2 separate regions of the Homo sapiens genome follow, and region 1 is linked to region 2. Evidence: fine-mapped expression QTL. Tissue or cell type: cerebellar hemisphere. Region 2 holds a variant in brackets; the other region holds the start of a gene. All regions are shown on one strand. Distances are between the middles of the regions.

What was found. PIP is the estimated chance that this variant, and not a neighbour inherited with it, causes the effect.
Region 1: ATP5MJ starts here. The variant in region 2 is fine-mapped to the expression of ATP5MJ in cerebellar hemisphere (GTEx, PIP 0.96).

The regions. Positions count from the first base shown.
Region 1 is chr14:103,918,397-103,926,495 of GRCh38, reverse strand. It overlaps ATP5MJ (ATP synthase membrane subunit j), which reads left to right and starts at 4,967. Exons shown (of 4, transcript NM_004894.3): 1 at 4,967-5,026. RefSeq lists silencers at 4,774-4,943, 4,830-5,002 and an enhancer at 4,637-5,312.
Region 2 is chr14:104,506,820-104,514,920 of GRCh38, reverse strand. No RefSeq gene overlaps it. Among named protein-coding and RNA genes, the nearest start is that of C14orf180, 69 kb to the left of the region's middle. The variant C/T (reference allele first, on the strand shown) is at 3,135.

The DNA of each region.
Region 1 (8,099 bases), 590 kb after region 2:
AGACGGGGTTTCACCATGTTGGCTAGGAAGGTCTCAATCTCCTGACCTCATGATCCGCCCGCCTCGGCCTCCCAAAATGCTGGGATCATAGGCGTGAGCCACCGCGCCTGGCCTGTTTTTCTAGGATGTTGCTGTTACCGTGTGCTGTCATCCTTTGTTGATGTCACAATGAATACGATTTTAAGTGGAAGATGCTTTTCAAAAACATTTTCTGGGGGGCATTTTCTATATTCTTTGATCTTTTGGGCTACTAGCTAATCCTTCTGAGTTTTGATTTTTTTTTTAATTGCAATCCAAAGATACTCTCTTGATGCTTCTTTGGAAATTTGCCAATTTGGAAAGTTGCCATAGTGTTTCCTGACCAAACACTAGTTAACATTCTGAATCATCACAGACTGAATGGCTTTGAGCACCTTTCATTTGATTCAGTAGTTCTCGGTGCTCCCAACTCACTTGGTCAAGTTCACCTTGCATTGCTGTCCAAAGTTCAGAGTTAAAAGAAACAGCTTGGGCTGGGCGCGGTGGCTCACGACTGTAATCCCAGCACTTTGGGAGGCTGAGGTGGGCAGATCGTGAGGTCAGGAGTTCAAGACCAGCCTGACCAACATGATGAAACCCCATCTCTACTAAAAATACAAAAATTAGCTGGGTGTAGTGGCGCGCACCTGTAATCCCAGCTACTCGGGAGGCTGAGGCAGGAGAATCGCTCGAACCCAGGAGGTGCAGGTTGCAGTGAGCCAAGATCGCACCACTGCACTCCAGCCTGGGCGGCAGAGCAAGACTCTGTCTCAAAAAAGAAAAAAGAAACAAGAAACAGCTTGACATCAGATAGATCTTCATGGACTTGTCACATCTAGGCCAGAACACATGGGAAGGCCACTGAACCCCTAGTGAGCCATGGTATTTTGGGAAGGTTTTGCATATTTGCATTCACTGAGCATTTGAGCGTCCACCAAAAAGGGGAAACTAACAGCTGAGAGCAGTTACAAATGGTGTTGGTGCCATTCAGCAGCACTCTCCTCAAAGCAGAGGAAGCTGTGCTCGAAGTAGCTTGCTGTCTTCTCCAGCCTTCCTACCACAAGATGCAACATTCTGCACTTTGAATAAATCTGCTGGAGTGGCCCTTTCCTTAAACATTTAGGTTTTTTTGGCCGGGCGCAGTGGCTCACACCGGTAATCCCAGCACTTTGGGGGGCTAAGGCGGGCGGATCACGAGGTCAGGAGATCGACACCATCCTGGCTAACTCGGTGAAAAACCATCTCTACTAAAAATACAAAAAATTAGCCTGGCGTGGTGGCGGGCGCCTGTAGTCCCAGCTACTTGGGAGGCTGAGGCAGGAGAATGGCGTGAACCCGGGAGGCAGAGCTTGCAGTGAGCCAAGATCACGCCACTGTGCTCCAGCCTGGGCGACAGAGCAAGACTCTATCTCAAAAAAAAAAAAAAAAAAAAAAGAAACATTTGGTTGTTTTTTTTTTTTAAGATGTGCGTTTCTTAGGGTGTTTTGGATTTGAAACTAAAGACATTAAAACTCTCTTGGTCTGAGCACAGTGGCTCACGCCTGTAATTCTGACACTTTGAGAGGTCAAGGTGGGAGGATCACTTGAGGCCAGCAGTTCAAGACCAGCCTGGGCAACATAGCAAAGTCTATTGATCTCAAGTCTAGTTGGAAGTTCAGAAGCTCTGTCTTGAAGCAGCTCTCCATGATGTTCTTCCTTAAGTTTTTCCTAAATGCTTGTTCTCGTCCTCAGCAGTGTTATAAGTCATTATAAATCTAAAACTCTAAAACATTTTTACTATAGGACAGTGGTTCTCAAACCTGGTTCTGTCTCAGAACCCCTTTACACTCTTAAAAGTTGCTGAGGACCCTAAAGAGATTTTGTTTATGTGGGTTATGTCTATCAGGGATTACAACTGAGAAATGTTTTTACTTATTTATTTTAAAATGATAAACCCGTTTGATGTTAAACAGTGTATTTTTCTAAAACGTCACTATGTTTTCCAAAAAACATTGTGTGTGTGTGTGTGTGTGTGTGTGTGTGTGAGAGGAATAACACTTTTACATTTTCAAAGATCGCACCACTGCACTCCAGCCTGGGCGACACAGCAAGACTCCATCTCAAAAAAGAAAAAAAATGATTTTAACTGGATCTTGAGCCTTTTATTATTTTATCTTGACACATCTGAGCTCGTTTTCCTTGTGCCTGAATAATGAACATTTATTTTACTGTGGATCTGCTTGTGATTATTTCAGTCCTAGCTGCACCATTTTATAAACCCCCCACCATTTCACAGACCCTGGTCGGAGTGAAACATTCCATGGGGGCTCTGACCATAAGAAACATCCTGCCCAACTGCCTGACTGCGGGAACATCCTTATCACATCCTGCCAGGCAGCAAGCCATACTGCCCAGACCCATCCAGCCCAGACCTATAATTACCCCAGCCTGGAAGCGGCAGTGAGCTCGGGCACTAAACTGGTTATCCGCTCCACGGGTTTTTGCTGGCAATAAACCTGTGTTGCTGTTGAAGCCACCATCTCTCTCCCCTCTCCCCTCCCCCCCTCCCTCTGTGTGTGTGTGTCTGTCTTGTCTGTCTTTAACCCTTGCCTTCCCTTCAAAACCTAATAATTTCCTCTTTTTTTTTTTCCTTTAAAGATGGGATCTTAATACATTGGCCAGGCTGGTCTCAAAATTCTGGGCTCAAGCAGTCCTCCCAAAGTGCTGGGATTACAAGCATGAGCCACCATGCCTAGCACGATTTCCTCTTAGTTTGTCCTTAACTGTCTTTATTTTACCTTCTTTTCTGAATGCCAATTTCCCTGTGTATAGAATTCCCTGTGTATAGAATTCTTGATTGGTGGTTACTTTCTTTGAGATTTTATCTTTATCTTTTCTATGGCTTTATTGTGAGATTTCAAGGTATTGATTTATTTTTATTTATCTGCCTGCTTGGTTTCTGTAAGGCTTTTTGTTTGTTTTTTGTTTTTTGTTTTTGTTTTTGAGACGGAGTCTTGCTCTGTTTCCCTGGCTGGAGTGCAGTGGCGCCATCTCTGCTCACTGCAAGCTCCGCCTCCCGGGCTCACGCCATTCTCTCACTCAGCCTCCGGAGTAGCTGGGACTACAGGCACCCACCACCACACCCAGCTAATTTTTTTGTATTTTTGGTAGAGACGGGGTTTCACCGTGTTAGCCAGGATGGTGTGGTGATCCGCCCGCCTTGGCCTCCTAAAGTGCTGGGATTACAGGCGTAAGCCACCGCGCCTGGCCTCTGTAAGGCTTTTTGAATCTTTGGCATGATTTTTTTCTCATCACTTTTGGAAAATTCTCAGCCATTAGCTCTTCAGATATTTCTGCCTCACCTCTTTAATTTCCTTCTAAGATACCAATTACCCATATGATTGGTATCTTTCCTGCTGTATCCCTCTTATTTTCTGAATGGCTTCTTCGATCTTGCAGTTTATTCTTTAACTGTCTAATCTGCCAAATCCATCCAATTTTTTGTTTTGTTTGTTTGAGACAGAGTCTCGCTCTGTCGCCCAAGCTGGAATACAGTGGCGCCATCTCAGCTCACTGCAGCCTCCACCTCCAGGGTTCAAGCGATTCTCCTGCCTCAGCCTCCCAAGTACCTGGAATTACAGGTGCGCACCACCACCACACCCAGCTAATTTTTGTATTTTTAGTAGAGAAGGGGTTTCACCATGTTAGCCAGGCTGGTCTCAAACTCCTGAACTCAAGCAGTTTGCCTGCTTTGGCCTCCCAAAGTGCTAAGATTACAGATTACAGGCCTCCCAAAGTGCTGAGCCACTGCGCCCAGCCTCCATCCAATTTTTATTTGGCTTTTTTTTTTTTTTTTTTTTTTTTGAGATGGCGTTTCACTCTTGTCGCCCAGGCTGGAGTGCAAAGATCTCGGCTCACTGCAACCCCTGCCCTCCGGGTTCAAGTGATTCTCCTGCCCCAGCTTCCTGAGCAGTTGGGATTACAGGCGCCCACCACCAAGCCCGGCTAATTTTTGTATTTTTAGTAGAGATGGGGTTTCGCCATGTCGGCCAGGCTGGTCTTGAACTCCTGACCTCAGGTGATCCGCTCGCTAAATTTTTTTCTTTTATGATTTCTAGTTCTCTACTGGAAAATATTTCTGAAAAAAAAAATATATATATATATATATATTTTTAAGACTATTAAGCCCAGTGTCTGGAGCCCCTGTGGAAGTTTTATATTATCTGCTGAGAAGAATATGCACAGAATACAGACATAAAAATATGCAGAGCAGGCCGGGCGCGGTGGCTCAAGCCTGTAATCCCAGCACTTTGGGAGGCTGAGGCAGGTGGATCACCTGAGGTCAGGAGTTCAAGACCAGCCTGGCCAACATGGTGAAACCCCGTCTTTGCTAAAAATACAAAAACTAGCTGGGCTTGGTGACCAGCGCCTGTAATCCCAGCTATTCAGGAAGCTGAGGCACGAGAACCGCTTGAACCCGGGAGGCGGAGGTTGCAGTGAGCCGAGATCGCGCCACTGCACTGCAGCGTGGGCGACAGAGTGAGACTCCGTCTCCAAATATATATATTTTATACATGCAGAGCTAAATAATTAACAATAGAAAGGGACAAGACACACCACTGAAATGGGAGACTTGACTTAGTCTTTAACGTCACAGTAAAGAGGGTCCCTTTTCTTAGGTTAACCAACCCTCCCGGTATGTCTAGAACTTTCCTAGTTTCAGCGTTGAAGGTCCCGCGTCCCAGGAAACCCATCAGTCGTGGGAAGATGTGGAGGATTAGCCAGCCCACAGTGACACACGCGGGCACACCCCTAACGCACCCTCTCCCCGCCCCTTCTTGCCTGCGACACCAGGCGGCCGCCGGGGGCGCTGTGGTGCGGAGGCGCCGCTGGGGAGGCACTCTGGCCTTGCGGCGTCTCTGCTGCTTCCGCCTTCCCGGCATCCCCTGCGCGCGCCTGCGCGCTCGGTGACCTTTCCGAGTTGGCTGCAGATTTGTGGTGCGTTCTGAGCCGTCTGTCCTGCGCCAAGGTGAGTACGGGGACCTGGACCTGGCTCCCGAGGTGCGAGACGGCGGGGGCGGGAGGGCGAGAAGCCGCCTTGGCCCCAGCTGATCTTGGGGTTCCACCCCTCCGCCGGCACGCGCCTGCTTTTCTGCCCGGCTTTCCCTTCTCTGAAGGGAGGTAGGCCAGGGTCGGTTGCCAGAGGGAAGCATCGCCTAGGCCTGCGCCGCGTTTCCCTCCTTGGCCTTAACGCGCTCAGTGCACCTGAATTCTCCCACGGTTTTGACAGGGAGCGTACCTTGGCCTTGAGAGGTTCAGCTGCCTAACCCAGAGGCTACGCAGAGTTAGAGAAGCCAGAGTCCAAGCCAAGAACTCTGACTCCACATCCAGTCCCTTCTCTCCTTTATAACTCAAGTTTCCTTGCGCCACACTGCCCTCCACGTTATGCTGTACATGACAACTTGGGTGAGGCAACAGGGAAGCTGAAAAGAGATCATACGGTGCTGAATGAAATTGTATGGAACTCGCGGGTCAGACATTTCCCATTTCCAGTGTCAGGTAATAGTTCGCCCTTAATGTAATGTGCCAAAACTTTGCAGACTTAAGTGGATACAGTAGACACACGTTTGGCCTATGAATAAGATGGATTTTTAAAAGGTCTGGTGCTGTAAAACTGACACACACAGCTAGGAAATGTGCCTGGGCAGAATGGACTCAAGAAAGGGGCCGGCCGGGCGCGGTGGTTCACGCCTGTAATCCCAGCCCTTTGGGAGGCTGAGGCGGGCGGATCACGAGGTCAAGAGATCGAGACCATCCTTACCAACATGGTGAAACGCCGTCTCTACTAAAAATACAAAAATTAGCTGGGTGTGGTGGCAGGCACCTGTAGTCCCAGCTACTCGGGAGGCTGAGGCAGGAGAATCGCTTGCACTCGGTAGGCGGAGGTTGCAGTGAGCCGAGATCGCGCCATTGCATTCCAGCCTGATGACCGAGTGAAACTCCGTCTTAAAAAAAAAAAAAAAAAAAAAAGTAGGGGCTGTCGTTTTATTATGTGTTGGGAATATGTAGCTGGGCGCGGTGGCTCACGCCTGTAATCCCAGCACTTTGGGAGGCCGAGGCGGGCGGATCACGAGGTCAAGAGATCGAGACCATCCTGACTAACACGGTGAAACCCCGTCTTTACCAAAAATACAAAAAATTAGCCCAGTGTGGTGGCACGCGCCTGTAGTCCCAGCTTCCCAGCTACTCAGGAGGCTGAGGCAGGACAATCGCTTGAACCCTGGAGGCGGAGGTTGCAGTGAGCCGAGATCGCGTCACTGCATTCCAGCCTGGGTGACAAAGCGAGACTGTCTCAAAAAAAAAAAAAAAGTAGGGGCCGGACGCGGTGGTTCACGCCTGTAATCCCAGCCCTTTGGGAGGCTGAGGCGGGCGGATCACGAGGTTAAGAGACCGAGACCATCCTGGCCAACATGGTGAAACCCCGTTTCTACTAAAAATACAAAAATTAGCTGGGTGTGGTGGCGGCCTCTTGTAGTCCCAGCTACTCGGGAGGCTGAGGCAGGAGAATCGCTTGCACCCGGGAGGCGGAGGTTGCAGTGAGCCGCGATCGCACCATTGCACTCCAGCCTGATGACCAACTGAAACTCTGTCTAAAAAAAAAAAGGGGGGGCCCTCGTTTTATTATGTATTGGGAACATGTCACTTGTCCAGGCAAATATGGCAACTGAAGTCAAGGGGAAAGGAAGGGAAAGGTATTTGCAAGCTACTGAATAGCAGGCCCCTGTTGCACTGGGGACTAAGGGTAATTTTGTAAGGAGACCATACCAGGGTGCCTGGGCCCGGAGCACAATGTCAGCATGACTCAGTTTCTTTAGTCCCTTCTTACCGTAGTCATTGTACCCTCCCAGTTTACTTTGCCCTTTTCCTTATAGACCCTCATCTTACCTTGTTCTGTCCAAAGCCCCTACCTGGCCTAAATGAGGGCGTCTTTTTAAGCCTTCCTTCTTGTTAGAGTCCCAGTGGCTTAGTATTAATTATAGCCATGAACTGGATATTTGTATCAATTCTGTTACTGCTGTGATCAGTCACTGAATTCTTTTTTTTTTTTTTTTTTTAAGATAAAGGGGGAGTGTCTTGTTGCCCAGGCTGGAGTGCAGTGGCACGATCTTGGCTCACTGCAAGCTCCGCCTCCCGGGTTCAAGCGATTCTCCTGCCTCAGCCTCCCGAGTAGCTGGGATTACAGGCGCCCACCACCATGCCCAGCTAGTTTTTGTATTTTTAGTAGAGATGGTTTCGCCATGTTAGCCAGGCTGGTCTCAAACTACTGACCTTAAGTGATCCGCCCACCTTGGCCTCCCGAGATGCTGGGATTATAGGCGTAAGCCACCGTGCCCAGTCCATTCTCTGGATTTTTATTCCGTACCAGGCACTAGGCACTAGGCTGGGTCCTTTAGGTTTCTCCTTTGTTTTTGTTTTTGAGATGGAGTCTCGCTCTGTCACCCAGGCTGGAGTGCAGTGGTGCAATCTTGGCTCACTGCAAGCTCCGCCTCCCGGGTTCACGCCATTCTCCTGCCTCGGCCTTCCGAGTAGCTGGGACTACAGGCGCCCGCCACCACGCCCGGCTAATTTTTTGTATTTTTAGTAGAGACGGGGTTTCACCGTGTTAGCCAGGATGGTCTTGATCTCCTGACCTCTTGATCTCCCTGCCTTGGACCCCCAAAGTGCTGGAATTACAGGCGTGAGCTACCGCTCCCGGCCTTGGTTTCCTCTTTGAATTGCATTGACAGCCCTCTGGGGGCAGGTGGAGGTATCCCTGTTTCACAGAAAAAGAAACCTCTGGGTTGAGCCTGGTGGCCCACGCCTGTAATCCCTGCACTTTGGGAGGCCGAGGCGGGCAGAACACAAGGTCAGGAGATCGAGACCATCCTGACTAACACAGTGAAACCAAGTCTCTACTAAAAATACAAAAAATTAGCCAGGCGTGGTGGCGGGCACCTGTAGTCCCAGCTACTCGGGAGGCTGAGGCAGGAGAATGGTGTGAACCCGGGAGGCGGAGCTTGCAATGAGCCGAGATCCGCCACTGCACTCCAGCCTGGGTGACA
Region 2 (8,101 bases):
AATCAGTATTTTATTTCATTTTATGGCTGAATAATACATATTCTGTTGTGTGGCTAGACCACGATTTGCTCATCCATTCATCCGCGATGGACATCGGGCCAGAAGGAGATTCTTAAAGCATTCATTTGGTGAAGTCTCTTCTGCTCAGAACCTTCCAGGGGCTTAGCAAGATCTACAGGCCTCTTTGTGGCCCAGCCCTGGGGCCCCGGGGACTCCTCTGCACCACCCCACCCTCATCCTTTTTGGCTCCACGCCCTGCTTGCCATCTTCCACCTCACCACACTCTGTCCTGCCTCAGTTTCCCACCTGCCTTCTCACTGCCCAGGCTGAGCATCTCTGTCTGTTTCCCATGACTGGGCTGTACTTATCCTTCCAGTCCATGTTGGAACGTCACTTCCATGGGGACACCCTCCTCAGCCTCCTAGTCACGCCACGTCAGCCACATGCAATGACCGTGGGCCCCATTAGACCCATTCAAGGACGGCACATGGGGCTGAGTTATCCTCCCATTCTCGCCTCTGCAGCCTGAGCTCCTCAAGGGCAGTGCCAAGTCTGATTGGTCTTGGCAACCCCCACAGTACACAGCAACCCTGCCAGGGCGCCTGGCACGGAGGAGGTGCTCACTGCAGGCTGTGCGGACTCCTGGAGGGGCGTGTGTGTGTGGTGCGTGAGGAAGTGCCAGGTAGCAGTGCTGTATCATGGGTAGTGCTGTTTCTGCTTGGCATGGAATAGCAAGTTGGCATCTGGTACAAACTAGTAACTTCTTATCCAGTTGGCCCAAGCACAGAATTGGTCTATACCCATACCAGAGGATGTGACATATTTTTATTTAAAAAAAAATCAATAAATCATTTGTGGGACTGTCACCAGTAACGATGTGACTGAATTAACCTCTCATCTGCCATGAGGGTGATCTTTTTGTTACTTGATCTTAAGTAACTCACAGAATCTGGGGCACCTGTCAAGCAGGACCTTTGGGCCAGGGGTTGATCTCTAAGCCACTGGAGGGCAGGACTCTCAGGGAACCCTCAGGTGCCCACCAGCCCCTGCTTCTCTGGGCACTCGATGTGAAAGGTCCAGGCTGAGGAGCGGTGGTCCCTGATCCCAGGACAAATCCCCCCTGGTGGTGGCCCTTTGGGTCTGAAATCCCCGCTCTGAGCTGATGTGGTTGCATGGATGCTGCTGAACAAACCCGAGGGGGCTGCTGCTGACGCGATGGGCTTCTGGTGAACTCCTGAGGGAACAGCTTAGCTAGGGGCAGCTGGGCTGCACCATCAACACCTTCTCCTGAACATTGGCCCCCTTGATCCCCGACTGACCCAGATCTTCTGTATCCCCGGGCCCAGCCACCCGGCCTGGCCTGGTCCCACTCCCCAGCACAGGACACCTCCGCACCTTTGTATAGGCTGGGCTCCTGGCCTGGAGTGCCCCATCTGCACAAGCCCCTCTCCCTTGGGAGGCCTTCTAGAACGTTCCGACCCTCCACTCCTTTCTTGAGCCCGAGGAGTGCTTGTGCTTGGGTGTGCGTGGTGTAGCCCAGCCCGATAGCTCCTGCTCAGCCTGTCCCGTGTGTCTGCAGCCAGGGTTTGGAGGATGTGGCGCTGGGCGCATGCTTCCCTCGGCTGCCCCTCCCTCCCTGCCCTGGCGGGGTGTGGGGTGCCCATGCCAGAGAGTGACTGAAGGCGTCCCCACCATGCTCACTCCCTGTGAGCTGCCCTGCAGGGGCCAACTTATCCCAGAAACAGGCTGTCCCCCAAACCACACGTTGTTGACTTTGAAGCACGGTGCATGTTTTGGCAGCAGATTCACCTTCTTAATTATGTCTCTCGGCTGCTATTTCAACCAGCGTGTGCTCCGAGCATGTGCCAGCCTCCACAACGTCTGCGTCCCCCACAGGACGGCTCTGCATTGTCCCCTCCCATGGCTCCTTGTCGTCGCGGGGCTGGCGATGCCGAAGCCACCCTACCAGGCTCCCTGTCTCGGCTCTCCTTCCCCATCGCTGCCTGGCTCTGCGCTGACCACGGGGGGAGCCCCGACCACCCCAGCCTCTCATCTAAGGCCCCACTGTCAGGCTTAGCCTCAGCAGCCTGTGGCTGCCTCCCTCACCTCACCATTCCCTTGGCGGGGTATTCTTTGGGGACACCCGACATGCCTGGCTTGTTGCAGCTTCTGTGCTTTTTCTTTTTTGAGACAGGGTCCTGCTCTGTCGCCCAGGCTGGAGTGCAGTGGTGCAATCACAGCTCACTGCAGCCTCGACCTCCTGCGCTCAGGTGATCCTCCAGCTTCAGCTACCCAAGTAGCTGGAACTACAGGCGTGTGCCACCATGTCTGACTAATGTTTGTATTTTTTGTAGAGACAGGGTCTCACCATGTCACCCAGGCTCATCGCAAGCCTGTGCTTCGGTTTCTTTTGATCCTTCTCTCTTGATGTCCTTGGCTTCCAAAAGGATTCTGTGGTTCCGAGGGCCCCTGAAGGCCCCCTGTGGCAGGAGTTTCCCCACCACTCCCCAGGGCATCTCCCATCTGCACGCCTCTCGGCCGGAGCTTCCTGTGCCCTGTGCCCCTGGATGGGTGCTCTTTGCAGGTAGGGGTGGTGCACGAGTGACCCTCAACTTCCAGCCTCTGAGCACTGCATGGCAGCTGGTGGGCGGGCAGGATCTGCTGGGCTGGGTTGTCCTGGGTCTTGCACTTGTTGTCCATGGTCTTGCTGAGGGTCCATGTGTGACCCTTGTTTCTCTATGTGGAAGTACATGAGAAGCACAAACGCAGGGCAGGGGATCACAGGCGAGTGGGATTCCTCCTGCGACTGCCCCGAGCCACATGTCTGCATACTCAGACCTGCCTACAGGTACCTGGACAGCTCTGGAAGGTGCTCACAGGTGCACTGCGGGGAGAATCTCGGGGAAGGAACAGTATGGGGGACTGGGGTGCAGGTGAAGGAGGCTCTCACTTTTTAATATCAAGCCTGCTTTCGTGTAGTATTTGTATAGCTGTAAAATAATATTGTTAAAAATAACATCCTCATTTAAATACTTTTTTCTTTTTCTTTTTTTTTTTTTTTTTTGAGATGGAGTCTTGCTCTGTCGCCCAGGCTAGAGTGCAGTGGTATGATCTCAGCTTACTGCAACCTCTGC[C/T]TCCCGGGTTCAAACGATTCTCCTGCCTCAGCCTCCTGAGTACCTGGGATTACAGGCGCGCATCACCATGCCCAGCTAATTTTTGTATTTTTAGTAGAGACACTGTTTCGCCATGTTGGCTAGGCTGGTCTCGAACTCCTGACCTCAGGTGATCCACCTGTCTCAGCCTCCCAAAGTGCTGGGATTACAGGAGTGAACCACCATGCCCAGCCTAAAGACATCTTTTAATAGGTTAAATAATAGAAAGTCCTTTTAGGAAATGCCACTGCTCTCTGTCCCCTGTGCTCCGTGACTTGCCCACCTGCCTGGGGTGTGGGTGGGAGGCTGGCCCGGACCCCTGCCTGGAGGCCTCCGTGTCCTCAGCCCCAGCTGCGTGCATTTCTTCATGCGTCCCCTGCACACAGGATGCACCGTACCACGTGCCCGGCTGTGGGCTGCGTGTGTGGTAGGGATGTGCAGGTCCCCGGGTGGCGAGGGGGGTTCTGAGTTCCCGGGAGGACATGGACAGGGAAGGAGATGCAGGAGAGACACACACAGGGCCTGTGGGGATTCCAGGGCCAGAGCTGTCAAGCTCGGCGGCTGGAGCTGAAGATGGGGCGGGCTGTGCGGCGCTGGTGACGGGCACCGTGGCCTGGCTGGGGTGCTCAGGTACCAGCTGCTTCTCCTGGCTGGGTCTGGCTCGGTCTCAGCACGTGGCCAAGCCGGCAGCACAAGCACAGGCCTTGGTCTTGGCTGGGAGCAGGGCTGGCCCTGCCAGGCACCAGATCAGAGCCAGGAGCGCGCTGGCAAGCCCCGCGGGACATATTGTGCATCAGCTACCACGGCAGCCCTTCCCAGACGGGCCTCTGCTCGCCTGGGGAGATGGTGGCAGAATGCGGAGGTGCCCAGCCCTGGCCACTGCCCCACCCCTGCACTCTGACCTGCCAGTCCCAGAAATGTCCTCTCAGAGCCCTGGAGTCAGCGGGCGCTTTCTGGGGAGCTTTGCCTTCTCCCCTCTCCCCATCTGTCCCTGACTATTGGAGTCAGTGCTTGTGTTTGAGCCCCCGAATCAAATAGCTTTGCAATTTGTCAAATTATGCAGAAGAGACAGAGGAGAGGAAAGGGAAGTAGTTTGGTTCTATTATGTGGAAATTAGCTTTGAAACAGAGGCCGTTTGCCTGTTAGAGCAATTTCTCTCCATTTATTTCTAGAGAAAATTGCCTGTGTGGCTCACATCCTCATCTGGTGGGGCTGGCTGTCTCCCAGGCCACTAGGCATGGGGGCTGGAGGCCTGCACCAGCCCTGAGGGCGTCTCCATCCTGGCCAGGGAATGGAAGGGAGACCAGGAGGCTTCATGCTGCTGCCCCTGGCCCTGGGGCAGGAGGGGAGGGGGCAGGCTCCGGCTCACTGCCCAGCCCCCATCTACCTCTGAGACATGTCTTGGTGGCTCTTGGAAGGCCAGGTCCCCAGCTCCCTAGAGGATGGGCCTGGCCAAGCCTCCTGGATGGGGGTGGGAGGCCCTGCCTGAGCCTGACCTTGGCGGGAGAGTGCTGCAGGTGATGCTGGGATGGGTGGGAGGGGACTCCAGGAGGAGGGACCAGCTGAAGGCACCACAAGGCCCTGTGTTTGGGAAAGGGCAGAAGTCAGGCAAGACCTAGAAGTGGCAATCCCAACTGCATTTTCTATCCTTCCAGGTGGAGCTGCCACCTGTCTGCAGATCCCAGCCCGGCCAGCCAGCTCTACTGCAGGGCGCACTGGGGTGTCTCGGGGAGACTGGCAGAGTGATGGCTGCAGGCTGCTGCCCTTCACGGAGCCTCCTGTGGCCACACTCGTGGGGTGCCCGTATCTGCTGCCTGGGGGTCCCTGCACGAGCCCTCTGGGAGGCATGCGGGCTCCAGGGTTCCAGTGGGGAGCTTGTAGTGTGGTGAGGGGGGACCTGCTAGGGCCATGCACCACTGGAGGGCAGCAGCCCCCCACCCCTGCAACCCTGTCTGCTGCTCCGGAGCTCCGAGCAAAGTGTACACCTGGGCATCCTGAAGGAGACTCAAAGCCAGGACGCTCGGGTGGGGTCTGAGTGCAACATCACACTTGGCCGTGGCTGAGGGGAGAGGGCAGCCCTTTTGTGCTATTATCATATTGTTTTGGGGAAATTGCTTTTTATGAAATAAATTTTACATAAAGTGAAATGTGCAGATCTTAAGGGTACAACCTGATGAGTTTTGACAAATACACACACATAACCAACACCCAACCAAGTTGTTTTGAGCTTTATCTGTGTAGTTTATCCATTTTATCTTTGAAGGGTATTCCATTTTATAAATATAAAATCTATTTATGCTTTTTCCTGCCAGTGTACCTTTGGGTAGTTTCCAGTTTTTGACTATTATAAATACAGTTGCTATAAACATTCTTGTGCAAGTATTTTTGGGGTACAAATGTTTCTATTTCCTTTGGATAAATAGCTAGGAGGGCCATAGGACAGGTGGAGGTTTAATTATGTAAGAGATTGCCAAGCAGTTTTCTAAGTGGCAGCACCGTTTTGTACCCTCACCTGCAGTATAGGCGAGTTCCGGCTTCTGCATATCCACACTGACATTTAGTATTGTCAACCCGATGGGCAAAAAACTACTTCCTGGAGATTTTCGTATCTATTTCCTGATGATTAATGATGTTACACATCTTTTCATGTGCTTATCCAGCATTTATGTGTCTTCTTTTATGAAGCATCTTTTAATTGGATTTTTTATTATTGATTTGTAAGAACTCTTTATATATTTTGGATAAGTGGATTGTCTTTTTATTGTTGATTTGTAAGAACTCTCAATATATTCTGGATATAAGATGTATGTGTGTGTGAGTGTGTATATATATGTGTATATGTGTGTGCATATATATATACATATATATTAATAGAGTTAGAGAAAATATATGTGTGTGTATATATACACATATATATACACACACATATATTTTTTTCCCTAATTTTATGAAATACCTTTTTGTTTTTTGACAATGTCTTGATGACCTGAAATTTTAAATGTTGATTAATTTCTGCTTGTTGTTTTTTCTTTATTGGCCAGAGCCTTTTGTGTCCTCTCTAAAGAGTCTTTGTTTACCTCAATGTTGCAGATTTTCTCCTGTGTGTTCTAGGTATTTCCTGGTCCATATTTTAGATTTAGATCTGTGGTTTATCTTAAATTAATTTTCATGTATGGTGTGAGGAAGGGGTTGGGGTTTATTTCCCCCATAAATGTATCCAGTTGCTCCAACATCATTTGTCAAAGAGACTTTCTTTCTTTATTGAATTTCCTTGCAGCCTTTGCTAAAAATCGATGGGAAATGTATTTATGGGTCTAGTTCTTGTCTCTACATTTTCTTCCATTATCTAAGTGTCTATTTCTTCGCCAGTATCTCACTGCCCTGATTACTGGGCTTTGCAGCATCCTGAAATCAGATCGTATTAGTCCAACGGTGCTCTTTATCCAGGATCATGTTTCTTTTCCAGGTCTTTGCACTTGCAAATGCATTTTAGAATCAATCAATCAATTTCCGTCAAAAAGCTCATTGGAATTATTATGAAGATCACATTCGGTCTACTGATCATTTTGGGGTGGCTGAACAACATCCTAGCCATAGAGAGTCTGCCCATCCATGAACTTGGTATACTTCTCCATTCATTCAGCTCTTCTTTAATTTCTCTCAGCAATACTGTTGCAGTTTAGGGGATAGATCTGGACCTGGTGCTGTCAGAGTTAGGGAATGATATGGGCAGAGCATTTGACTGTAATCTGGGAAGCAAGGACTGGTGCCCACCTGCAGGCCTGTGGGGACTCTGGGCAGCAAGGCAGCCTCTCAGCTTCTGCCCAGGCAGCAGCCACAGCTCACTGTGATGCCAGGTATGCACACTTCCAGGGGGCCCATTGTCCTTCCACCCACCTTCTAGTCCACACTCAGGAACGTTCTAAGCCATCCCTGTCGGGTGGGGCAGGAGAGGGGAGAATCCAGACCTCACAGGAGCCCCAAACCCTGATATCTCCAAAGTGCCCTTTTGCCAGCCCTGGTCTCTGCTTTTGTGTCCTGGGTTTGGCTACATGTTGACAAAGATGCTCACTCGGAAAGTTGAGCAAGACCAGCTCTCATCTGTTGTTATGGTTACGAGGCAGGAAAAACAATTTCCTGTGAGTATCTTCTGATCACTCCTGTCGGATGCTGGAGCAGATTAGGCCAGGCACCATGGTGATGGCTTCTCTGGTTCTGTGGGGGACCATGTGACATTCATTTTGACCTCACACATGGGGTTGCAGTCTGCCGGCTCAGTCAGGGGAGATAGACGGATCTCATTAAGAACCATCAGAGGATCACTTTGCTGGTTTTATTGCAGTTGCAAAATTGCCTTTACCTCACTCTCTCCCAAATGCCAGATTACAAACATCACAAGAGATCAAGAAGCCTGGGTGGGCCCAGGAACGCACTGAGTGCACGCCAGTGGGCAGTGACCAATCACCAAACCCAAGGGAGTCCACATGGCGAGCTGTCTCCTTGCTACATGGGGCCTGCCTACTCACAGCTGGGAGCCCCTCCAGCACCAGGAGGCCCAGGTCTCCCCGAAAAGAGAACACACTCTCTGCAGGGGCAACTTCCACCTCCCCACCGACCCAGGCCCCCCAGTTGCAGAGCTGCAGAATGGCAGAATTGGGCCCCCCAGTTACAGAGCTCCCCAGAGCTGCAGAACGGCAGAGGGAGGCAGCAGGGAGACAGACCCATAAGTCTGGTCTTGGAGAAAGGGGTGGCTGCAGCCAGGTGGAGCAGCAGGCTGGGCCATTTCCTGGTCACAGAATCTTCTATCCCAGCCCCATGGCAACCTGGGGGCAATCTCCCCCTCCGCTCTCTCCTGAGGGAGAATCTCCCCCTCTGCTTGTTCTCCAGGCAGGGCCTGGGCTGCCCACGGTGGAGGAGAGGTTCACCCTCAGCCAGCCAAGTCTCTGCCC